Linked DNA regions of Homo sapiens. The protein of the gene in region 2 interacts with the protein of the main gene of each other region in a pairwise test. Each region holds a gene or a part of one and is shown on either strand. Other genes may lie near its edges.

Region 1 (7,306 bases), on a different chromosome or scaffold from region 2:
CAGCTCATGGTGGTGTTCAAGTGGCCTAAAATTCAGTGATGATATTTTCTTTCACTCAATTACGTAGCAAAGAATGAGGTTTGAAACAGGGTGCCATAATTAGTTTGAATGAGGGTACTATGCTGAAAAAATATATGTCTATATACACACACGTATCTACATGCGTGTGTGTGTATATAAAATCTTACCGAATTGTACATGAGGAGCCTTCTCAGTTTCAGTTATTTGTAACATTATCTATTATCATTAAATATTATTCACTTGACAAATACTTATTTAAGGACTAGTGGAAAGACTGTAGGCAGGGGTGTCTTCCAGAAGAAATTGGTATTTAAACTGATACCTAGAGGGTAAGAAAAGTTATTAGAGCAACCAAAAGGGGAAAGGGTAGTTCAAGCAAGAAAAAAAAAAAAAAGTGTTTATGTGCCAAGAGTTGAAGAACAGCTTGGCCCTTCCAAGAATTGAGGAAGCTGGTTTGGTAGAAGTATTGAGGGACCCAGTAAGGTGTAAGGCTGGAGAAACAGTCAGGGGCGTATCAATAAAGACTTTTTATGCTATTTTGAGGAGGTTTGTTGTCCTCTTATAGTGATGGAAAGCTGTTCATCTTCAGAAGAGCATCTTCTGTTTTGTGTTTTAGAAGGATTAGAGCAGGCGAGATTGAAGACAAAGAGGCCAGTTAGGAAATTGTTGATGTTTTACAAGCGAGAAATGAAGGCAGACTGGATTAAGTAGGAAGAAAGAAAACTAAAAGGATTTGTGTATAGAAATGATGGATCTTTTCTGACTAATTAGGAACTGTGGGTGAGAGGAAAGCAATCTGGAAGGTGTAAACAAATTAAGAATGAACTTTCAAAACATGTGCCAAGTCTCCTAAGAATGTGTTGTCTCCAAAGTTTATTTCTGATCATTTAAAATAACTTACCATTGCTTTTGCAATATAGATCAACATCGGTCTAGTGGTTTCAATTTATATAAGAACAAACTATATTATTTTTCTATCAAGCAGCTCTGAAGAAGGAGACATAGTCTGTTACATATATATCTTTAGTGCATACTAGCCCTGTCAAAAGGACTAAATGCCTGAGCAATTTAAAGAAAAAAAATCAGAGGCAAACCGAAAAATTATGGCCTATAGGGAGCATATGCAAATTTCACAAAAATTAATGAAATGCTTTTCCTTAGGGAGCATCTTATGATGCAATAAGCCAATATTTACATTTTAAAGGAGTTTTTCTGTTTTTTTTTTTTTTTTCAGAGACTTCCTTCATATAGGAGCTGGAGGACACAGCACATTGGAAATCAAGAAGAAAATAAAAGTAAAAACAGGAATTCTAATGTCATCCCATGTATGTAGTTTATTTTTTTATTTTTTGTATCAGATAAAGTTAAGCTCTTTTGGATTTGTTTAATGTGGGACACACAGTCATATAAATTATCTTGAAGCAAGTTTTCAACATTTGGTTGTTAATAGGGAAGAAGTTACTAGGTATTAAAATACTAGTTATTGCAAGAACTTATAATCCTGAACATTTACAATGGGCTTTGGAGGGTAGACTGTATTCAGTGTTTTCTTTTTACCAATTATTTCAGAAATGGGTTGTCATAAAAGAGAAATATATAAAGCTGGGAGAAAAAAGAGCAAGTCTCTTTTACCCATTTTCTTTCATTTTTAGTTTATTTCAGTTATTTACTCCAGGGTAATTGACAAATAGTAAAAATTACATCCATTTGTTCTCTATATGTTTCCTTTTTATCCCTTATAACTGGGAGGTTGAAAGTAAGGGGAAAATACTCTATAAATTCTAAATCTTCAAATTTAACAGATCAAAATATGCACAGTTTCAATACTTGAATTCTACTATTTAAGCATATTAAAATGATCACATATGGTAATTTTATTCAGCTGCATAAACTAAAATTAGCATGGATAAAATATAACACAAGTTGATAAATTAGATGACCAAATAAATCAGATCAGTGCATGGTTGACCTAGTTAATTTTCATAGGAGTCCTTATGAATGTAGTTTAAAATATGGAATTGATGGTGATATGGTTAATCAAATCATTTGACCAAGTTATTATAAATTATAGAAATTAAGAAACAGTGAGAAATTATAGGTCAAATAATTTTCTGGGCTAAATAATTAATCAAAGCTACCCATATAAGATTGTTAATTTAATATTACTGGAGTATAATTGAGGGAAAAAATCTACGCTATGTATTTTGTAAACTTATATCAAGCAGAATTATAATAGTCCATGGGAAATTAAAGTATATGTATCAAAGATTAAATAATCATATATAATGATATGATATCTCTTTGTTGTTTGACATGGAATTATGTTCCATGTTTTTTCCTGGAATCCTTTTTCTTAGACTTTTGTTGTATAATTTGTTTATCGACAAGTACTGAATTTTATATAGGATCTTATTTCATGTAGATCAGTAAGTTTTCATAATACAATCTGTCCCTTTTTAAATACTTTCAAATTTCCACATGACAATGAAGAAGAAATTTAATTTTTTCAAGGAAGACTTACTACTGATTTATTTCACATAGATGACTATAACAGAGTGCCACTTAAACATGAGCTGGAAATGAGTAAAGAGAGTGAGCATGATTCAGATGAATCCTCTGATGATGACAGTGATTCAGAGGAACCAAGCAAATACATCAATGCATCTTTTATAATGGTAGGTACTTAAATTGCCAAAACCCAAGATCCAAACATTTTAAAATAATATCTATGTTATTAGGGCCATTCATTAAGCGATTTTATAAAAGAATAATGAGCTTGGTCATAACTACATATAGATTGACATGAGAGTTTCAATTTCAATGCTACAATTTAACTTAATGAAAGATTTAAAAATACTATAACCTAATAACCTGAGACAAAATAAGATAATGCTATTGGTTATATTTTATGACAAATATAGCTATAATCACATCAATTTTAAAAATAGTAAAATTTGAGCAAATACAAGTATTTGAAAATGTTTATACATACTCAGATACCCAAATTGTAGGCAATGACAAATTTGTATATTTGTATGGTTAGAAACTTTTCATTCAGATAAACTGAATTATTAGGTGAGTCTGTGTCATATCCCCCCACTTTTTTAATTAACTGAGAATTCAAACAATGAAACTTTAGTCATTTATTAAATATTTATTATTTATACACTGTTGGATTTACTTATTTTCCAAAGTTTCCTAAAGCACACATTCATAGAATATTAGTTTAATTAGGAAATATAATAAGAATGTAAAGACACTAATTAAAATTAGTATAGACACGATGAAGGTAATTTGAAATGCTTAAGTAATTCCTTTTTACAATCACATTAACCTTTATAGAGAAACAAAAATGTGTGTCTTTTGTGGAAAGGAAAATTTGTTTCGCAAGATATGTTGTAATCTTGATTTCACATTATTAGCTAAGAATTACTATTATCTGTATAATTATTTTACATATAGCTATTACATTGTTTCTTGTAAGAAACATAAGAATATTACTATTTGTATGTAACAGCATTGATATCAAACTGACTATATTTCCAAATGGTTACTTTAAGAATCTACTGAGCTCTCTTCTGTAGTAACGAAGTCCCACCCTTTTTTTGTCTAAAAAGAGCTACTGGAAACCTGAAGTGATGATTGCTGCTCAGGGACCACTGAAGGAGACCATTGGTGACTTTTGGCAGATGATCTTCCAAAGAAAAGTCAAAGTTATTGTTATGCTGACAGAACTGAAACATGGAGACCAGGTTTGTACTTTTGAGGATTTTCTTTTAAGCCTTTCTGTCATAAAACGTCATTCTCTAGTCTTGGATTGCTTGCTTCATCGCCATACCCACGTCTTTTTTTATCCCTCCATCACATAATTCTGTCTGCTCAGTCTTACCCCTTTCACCCTGGTGTTGGCCTCCATCAGCTGTGTCTGGATTCTGACAGTCTCTCCTGTTTGTCCCCTCCAGTCTTGCATGCTGCTCACAGATTAGCCAGGATGCAGCAATGTCAGCGTCACAGCAAATAACAGCTACATTTTCACGCTGTTTTCCTCATTTTCTCAAGATAAAAGCCAAGATCTTTTTGTGATATCCAGCACCCTGGACAATCACCCCCTCATGTGTCTTTCATCTTCCTCCCATTTTTATGTTTTCCATCCTCTCCACTCTGGACAAGCAGGTTTCATGCCCAAGCCTAAACACGCCATTTGCATTGTCATCACTGAGTCTAAACTTATTGATATTCCATGTAACTAAATGTGTGCTGTCTTCCAGTTTTGACCCTATTCTTTTAACAAGACCAAACTCCTGAAAAATGTATCTATATCATCCTTTCTTTATTCCCATATAATATTTATTGCCATAAAAGTCTATAGTTGAAGGTGAATCTAAGCTATAATTTGATTTTTTTACTTAATGCTTGTGACAGATATTTTATCCTTTTCTTAATGTCTTCAGTTATTATTAAAATTTCCCTGGTGGTAGATCTCACTCAGCTTTAGCACCAACCACATTATCTGACATATGTTCAAGCCTATTCAGTGAATAACCTTATAAGTATGCAAAAGATTTATGCTTTTTTATGCCCCTCTCTCTCCCCTAAATCTCACTCTTTCTCACCCTCACCTGGTCCCCTTCCCCTGTACATGGAAAGTTGCTTTTTATGTTTTTTGTTTTAAAGGAATATAAGTCCAGATTTCTAGCATGGAATTCCCACAATCCTTTCCTTCATATAAATTGTGAAAGCTGGGAAACAGGATGGAAGTACCGGCAGGACTCCCTGTCTTTGTCAGAAATTGTGGGGTTGTAGTTGGTAGACAACAGTTTGTAGTAAGAAGAAACACTTTTGTGGTTCATCTACTCTTCAATCTGGCCCTTTCCTTAGCTATGTAGACAAAATATATAAAGCTGCTTATGGTGTTGGTCAACAAGATGACAGAGACAAAGCTCCAAAAGATGCAGCCTCCTTCCTCAAGAACCACTGAAGGGACAGTGGGACCTGAGTTATTGAAAGGGTCATGAATAACATTGACTCATGCCAGCCATAAATATTGAAGAGGTCATGATAAGCATGTGGAAAAGAGGAGCAAACCTCAAAGACCTACACTAAGGAAAACAGCTGTTCCGGGGGTGTCCCAGTCACCTCGATTGTGCTCAGCTTCCCTTTTCTTACACAAGGAAACACCACATATTTATTAAATGGGTCGCCAGCACTTAAATAGATTCTGGATTTTTATAAGTAGGTTTCAATTTTAGAACACAATAATTTTCATTTAATAGAAAAGAGGCACAGACAGAGAAAGAAAGGGAGAAAGAGGGAGACTGATCCTTTGCATATTTCAAATAGGAAACAAATTGTTGAATTGTCTTCTTTTATCTAGGAAATCTGTGCTCAGTACTGGGGAGAAGGAAAGCAAACATATGGAGATATTGAAGTTGACCTGAAAGACACAGACAAATCTTCAACTTATACCCTTCGTGTCTTTGAACTGAGACATTCCAAGGTATGGAAACAATTTGGGGAGTATATTTCTTTGATATAATGGATCTGGTAGCAAAATGAATATAAATTACTCTATGCAGGCAAGGCCATCATATAAATAATGTTTCAGAATAACATTTTAAAATTATTTAAATAGAAGTAACTGTGAAGAAAATATGACTATCAAATTAGAAAATAAGCTGAACTTCACTCCAGTTAATGCTCTCTTCAATTCTGATTTTAGAGGAAAGACTCTCGAACTGTGTACCAGTACCAATATACAAACTGGAGTGTGGAGCAGCTTCCTGCAGAACCCAAGGAATTAATCTCTATGATTCAGGTCGTCAAACAAAAACTTCCCCAGAAGAATTCCTCTGAAGGGAACAAGCATCACAAGAGTACACCTCTACTCATTCACTGCAGGTGCGTGGGATTTGGTAGAATGTGCTCTCAAAATCATAATGCTTGACTTCTCGGTTCACATGTTGTCTTATCTAGTTATCCTCATATATGAAACACATAACCACAGTAAAAACTTCTTATGGAGTCGGTCACTCTCTTGGTTGTTTCCACAACACAACTATTGTAGAAATATAATAGAAGTGATTATATTATAGTGCAATAATTTTAAGTTGTGTTTTTTAATACTTGGTGTCATGTCATCTTTGATTCCTTGGTAGCTAACATTGAGCCAGGAATGTCATTTGTGTGAATGAATTAATGAATGGAAGGGTGTGTGAACAGATAGGTAGATGGGTATCACCTTACACATATACCCATATACATTGATCTACTCTATTAGGTGTCACAAAGACACCTAATATGTTTAATGAACACAAAGTTTATTAAACATATTTTAAGTTAAATATTAACTGAAATCACAAAGCTTAGCAATTTTGATTTGAAACTCATTATTTAATTTTCTAAACTGAACCAAAGGCAAAGATTGTGGTAATATCAATAATACTACTAGATTTTATTAGTTTCTTCATCTGTGATAGGTGCTTACATATTCACCTTAAATAAGCAATATAATTGAAAGAAAGATATATAATATAAAAGTTTACATGAAAAAGAATATTGAAGTAAATGAGAAACGAAAAATAGTAAAGTAAAATGAGAAATGTTTATCTAGTGAAAAACTTTTGGAATTTTTGAAAAAGTCTAATTGTTATTATTGGAATTGCATATACTAGAATCAAGCCTTAAGAAATATATGAATTTTCAGCATTTATGTGGAAAGAAAGCTGAGGAAGGGAAGTTTACACTGTAAAACTATATATGTTTCTTAGAATATGATTTATGTACAATAACTAAAGTGTCCTGCTGATAACATATTGTTTAAATTGAATCTTTATGATAATGCTTTATACTTCTCATTGTTTGGTAAACTATTTGATTGCCCTCTTTTTAGTGAATAATTCTACTAGGTATTACTTTTCTACTGATGCAGAAGTGAAAACATTTGTGAAACGTGGTAGAGAGGCAGAAGAGTGAAGAAGAGCATGTGTTCTAGTAATTTACAAAATATTAGGTCTAATATTTCTGATTACATCAGCTTTCTCTTCTCCAAATCTTGGTTTCCTTATCTATCATACTGGCATTCTGATATTGGTTTCAACAACTTCAGATGTAAATAAAAATGCATTAAAATCCATAAAATACTAAATAAAAGAAAATATATTTGTAAAGTCGAAGACAAATAAGTTTTCAATTCCAGGATTATCACACTCTTAAATTGAAAAATTTGCCTAAAAATGCATTTAGCGTAAATAATTTGGTTCTTGAAAGAGGTTGGAATAAGATAATT
Region 2 (4,110 bases):
CACACACACACACACTCTCTCTCTCTCTCCCTCTCTGTTAAAAACCTCTCTCCACCCGTTGGCTGAGGCATCCCTGTGGTAGCATCTAACAAGTGCCTGCTCTAGTCAGGCACTGTGATAGGGGTAATACTCCCCATCTCTCTTAATCCTCACAGCAACTTTGTGCCATCTCATGGCTCAGGGATTAGTAAAGTGGCAAAGGCACATTAAACTCAGATTATCAATAGTAATAACCATTTGATGAAAGCCTACAACGCACGTTACTTGCTTTATAGATTTTTTTTAATTTTAAGTTTTATGACAACTTTTAAAGTAGTCATGATTACCTGCATTTTACAGATAAGGAAACTGAGGCTTAGAACATTTAGTGATTTGTCCAAGGTCATACTGCCCGGGAGCTGCAACTTCCATCCAAAGCTCAGACACCTTCCCCATGGCTGCAGGCTGAAGTGTTAAGGATAACCGACTGTGTACACCAGTTCTTTTCAGTAGATGAAATATTTTACATTTTATACCTGGAGTTTGCATTTTATACTCCTTTACATTTTTCTGAGGGAATCCAAGTTCAGGACTTTACACATTGTTGTTTTTAGCAATGGAAATGCAATGGATTTCCAATGCATATGTTACAGGTGATATACCAAGGGGATAAAGACTTTGAAAATGAGCCGGGTATTGTGGTGCATGCCTATAATCCGGGCTACTCAGGAGGCTGAGGCAGGAGAATCGCTTGAACGTGGGAGGCGGAGGTTGCAGTGAGCTGAGATCGTACCACTGCACTCCAGCCTGGGTAACAGAGCAAGATTCCATCTCACAAAAAAAAAAAAAAAAAGTGGGGGGGGAAGTTTTTAGCTTTTCTTTTCTTTTCTTTTCTTTTTTTTTTTTTTTTTTTTTGAGACGGAGTCTCGCTATGTCGCCCAGGCTTGAGTGCAGTGGTGCGATCTCGGCTCACTGCAAGCTCCGCCTCCCGGGTTCACGCCATTCTCCTGCCTCAACCTCCCAAGTAGCTGGGACTACAGGCACCCGCCACAACACCCGGCTAATTTTTTGTATTTTTAGTAGAGACGGGGTTTCACCGTGTTAGCCAGGATGGTCTCGATCTCCTGACCTCGTGATCCGCCCGCCTTGGCCTCCCAAAGTGCTGGGATTATAGGCGTGAGCTACCGCACCCGGCCAGTTTTTAGCATTTTTATTATTCAGGGTGCACTTTGGAACTTTTGCAGAAGGACCATCCCTTTTCTCGATCTTTTCTGAAAACTCTCATTTTGAGATGAATAACTGAGAATAAAGTTCTGCCTTAAAATACAAAGCTATACAGATTAAACACACCTGGGAAATTCCAACACCCGAGTTAATATACTCAGTGATGATGGTGGGCCGCTCAGCTTCAACAGAGAGGTTTTAGAGGGCTGAGAGTGCAGACATGACGCTCATGATGAATTAGCATGTTTACAAGGTGCTAGCCTGGTGCTGAATTAACACGTTTTTAGCGTAACATCATTTGGCTGATGGTGGTGATTTGCTCACATCCTCCTCTCTCCCTGTCATCCTCCGGGGCTGAGAATCAGGTCAGCTAATGACTTTGGTTATCAGTCTCACTCTCACACCTCTGTGGAGACCTTGACAGGGGCTCCAGGAAGCTAGACTAACTCGGTTTAGATCCTGGCTCAGCCACCTCCTAGATGTGTGACCTTGGGCAAGTTTAACTTCTCAATCTCAGTGCCCACCCTTAAGGCTGCTGTGAGGATTACATGAGATGGTGCAAGTAAGGCATTTAGCACGGGTGCTGTGCTGACGTCATTCACCCAGTCCCATGCTGGTGCCCCAGGAACAGGTTCTCAGACCTTTCAAAGGCTGGGGGATTGGGAGGCTGGACGTGGCTGGATGGATGCTGCACTGGCGGGGTTCTGGCTACAATGATGGTCGCTTTCCTCTCTTTCAGGCCTGTGGTCAAATCGGGAGACAAGCCCAGCCTTTCGGCGAGATACGTCTAACCCTGTGCAACAGCCACTACATTACTTCAAACTGAGATCCTTCCTTTTGAGGGAGCAAGTCCTTCCCTTTCATTTTTTCCAGTCTTCCTCCCTGTGTATTCATTCTCATGATTATTATTTTAGTGGGGGCGGGGTGGGAAAGATTACTTTTTCTTTATGTGTTTGACGGGAAACAAAACTAGGTAAAATCTACAGTACACCACAAGGGTCACAATACTGTTGTGCGCACATCGCGGTAGGGCGTGGAAAGGGGCAGGCCAGAGCTACCCGCAGAGTTCTCAGAATCATGCTGAGAGAGCTGGAGGCACCCATGCCATCTCAACCTCTTCCCCGCCCGTTTTACAAAGGGGGAGGCTAAAGCCCAGAGACAGCTTGATCAAAGGCACACAGCAAGTCAGGGTTGGAGCAGTAGCTGGAGGGACCTTGTCTCCCAGCTCAGGGCTCTTTCCTCCACACCATTCAGGTCTTTCTTTCCGAGGCCCCTGTCTCAGGGTGAGGTGCTTGAGTCTCCAACGGCAAGGGAACAAGTACTTCTTGATACCTGGGATACTGTGCCCAGAGCCTCGAGGAGGTAATGAATTAAAGAAGAGAACTGCCTTTGGCAGAGTTCTATAATGTAAACAATATCAGACTTTTTTTTTTTATAATCAAGCCTAAAATTGTATAGACCTAAAATAAAATGAAGTGGTGAGCTTAACCCTGGAAAATGAATCCCTCTATCTCTAAAGAAAATCTCTGTGAAACCCCTATGTGGAGGCGGAATTGCTCTCCCAGCCCTTGCATTGCAGAGGGGCCCATGAAAGAGGACAGGCTACCCCTTTACAAATAGAATTTGAGCATCAGTGAGGTTAAACTAAGGCCCTCTTGAATCTCTGAATTTGAGATACAAACATGTTCCTGGGATCACTGATGACTTTTTATACTTTGTAAAGACAATTGTTGGAGAGCCCCTCACACAGCCCTGGCCTCTGCTCAACTAGCAGATACAGGGATGAGGCAGACCTGACTCTCTTAAGGAGGCTGAGAGCCCAAACTGCTGTCCCAAACATGCACTTCCTTGCTTAAGGTATGGTACAAGCAATGCCTGCCCATTGGAGAGAAAAAACTTAAGTAGATAAGGAAATAAGAACCACTCATAATTCTTCACCTTAGGAATAATCTCCTGTTAATATGGTGTACATTCTTCCTGATTATTTTCTACACATACATGTAAAATATGTCTTTCTTTTTTAAATAGGGTTGTACTATGCTGTTATGAGTGGCTTTAATGAATAAACATTTGTAGCATCCTCTTTAATGGGTAAACAGCATCCGATTTTGGTTGTGCCATCATTTATTTAACTATTACCTGATATTTAGTTGTTTCCAACCTTTTCCTACTATAACACTCTTAAAATGTTGCATATATTTTTGTTTCTTTAGGATAAAGACCTAAAAGTAAAATTATTGAATCAGTCCCCACCTTCACCTGAGCCTGCCATTTTCACATCAATCAAAACAGATTAGCTTCATCCTGCATTACCCTTCTTCCTTTTGTTCTTTCTTGGTAACAGAGGAGACGATGCTCCTTTCATGATAAATCACTAAGTCATCTTGTTGTTGAGGTAAAATATTCGTACTGAAAATTGCTTAAGTCGTAAATGTACAGCTCGATGACATCATAAAGCAAACACACCCATGTAATCAGCCCTCCAGAAGTCTGTCGTTAGTTTTAAAACCAAGATACTTTTAGAGAATGGAAAGCAAGAGTGGCTTTCTGTTCTCTAAATGAAGTAGCCTATGTGTGAAAGCAGAAGAGAAAGCTGATAAATTACCCATGAGACAAATTCCCCATGTCGCTCCTCCCTGAGCCCAGCTGACAGGGCCAGGAGGTGCCCAGCACACCCAGTCAAGGCAGGTGCCAGGTTTTGAGGCCTCCTGTGGAAGCAGGGCCTGGGCTCGGGGCTATCTCTGAATTCCCTGGGAAGGATGAGCATCTCACAACAGGTCGCTCCCCTTCTCATGGGAGAAACTTGTGAAGTTGACCCTGGAGCACCAATGAATGTCAAAGAATCTGTGCCAGGGCAAAAACAGGAAAAGGGCATTTCTGCCAAAAGCAGCATTTCCTCTTCAACCT

Evidence for each region.
Region 1: the proteins of CD8A (region 2) and PTPRC come close enough for resonance energy transfer, tested with the Homo sapiens proteins (one study listed by BioGRID).

Annotation. Positions count from the first base shown.
Region 1 is NC_000001.11:198,746,854-198,754,159, forward strand, and holds part of PTPRC (receptor-type tyrosine-protein phosphatase C isoform 1 precursor), read left to right. Parts: intron 1-1,255; coding exon 1,256-1,346; intron 1,347-2,562; coding exon 2,563-2,696; intron 2,697-3,638; coding exon 3,639-3,773; intron 3,774-5,395; coding exon 5,396-5,518; intron 5,519-5,740; coding exon 5,741-5,919; intron 5,920-7,306. UniProt on the Homo sapiens protein: Protein tyrosine-protein phosphatase required for T-cell activation through the antigen receptor. Acts as a positive regulator of T-cell coactivation upon binding to DPP4.
Region 2 is NC_000002.12:86,783,804-86,787,913, reverse strand, and holds the end of CD8A (T-cell surface glycoprotein CD8 alpha chain isoform 1 precursor), read left to right. Parts: intron 1-1,942; coding exon 1,943-1,994; 3' UTR 1,995-3,304; downstream 3,305-4,110. UniProt on the Homo sapiens protein: Integral membrane glycoprotein that plays an essential role in the immune response and serves multiple functions in responses against both external and internal offenses. In T-cells, functions primarily as a coreceptor for MHC class I molecule:peptide complex.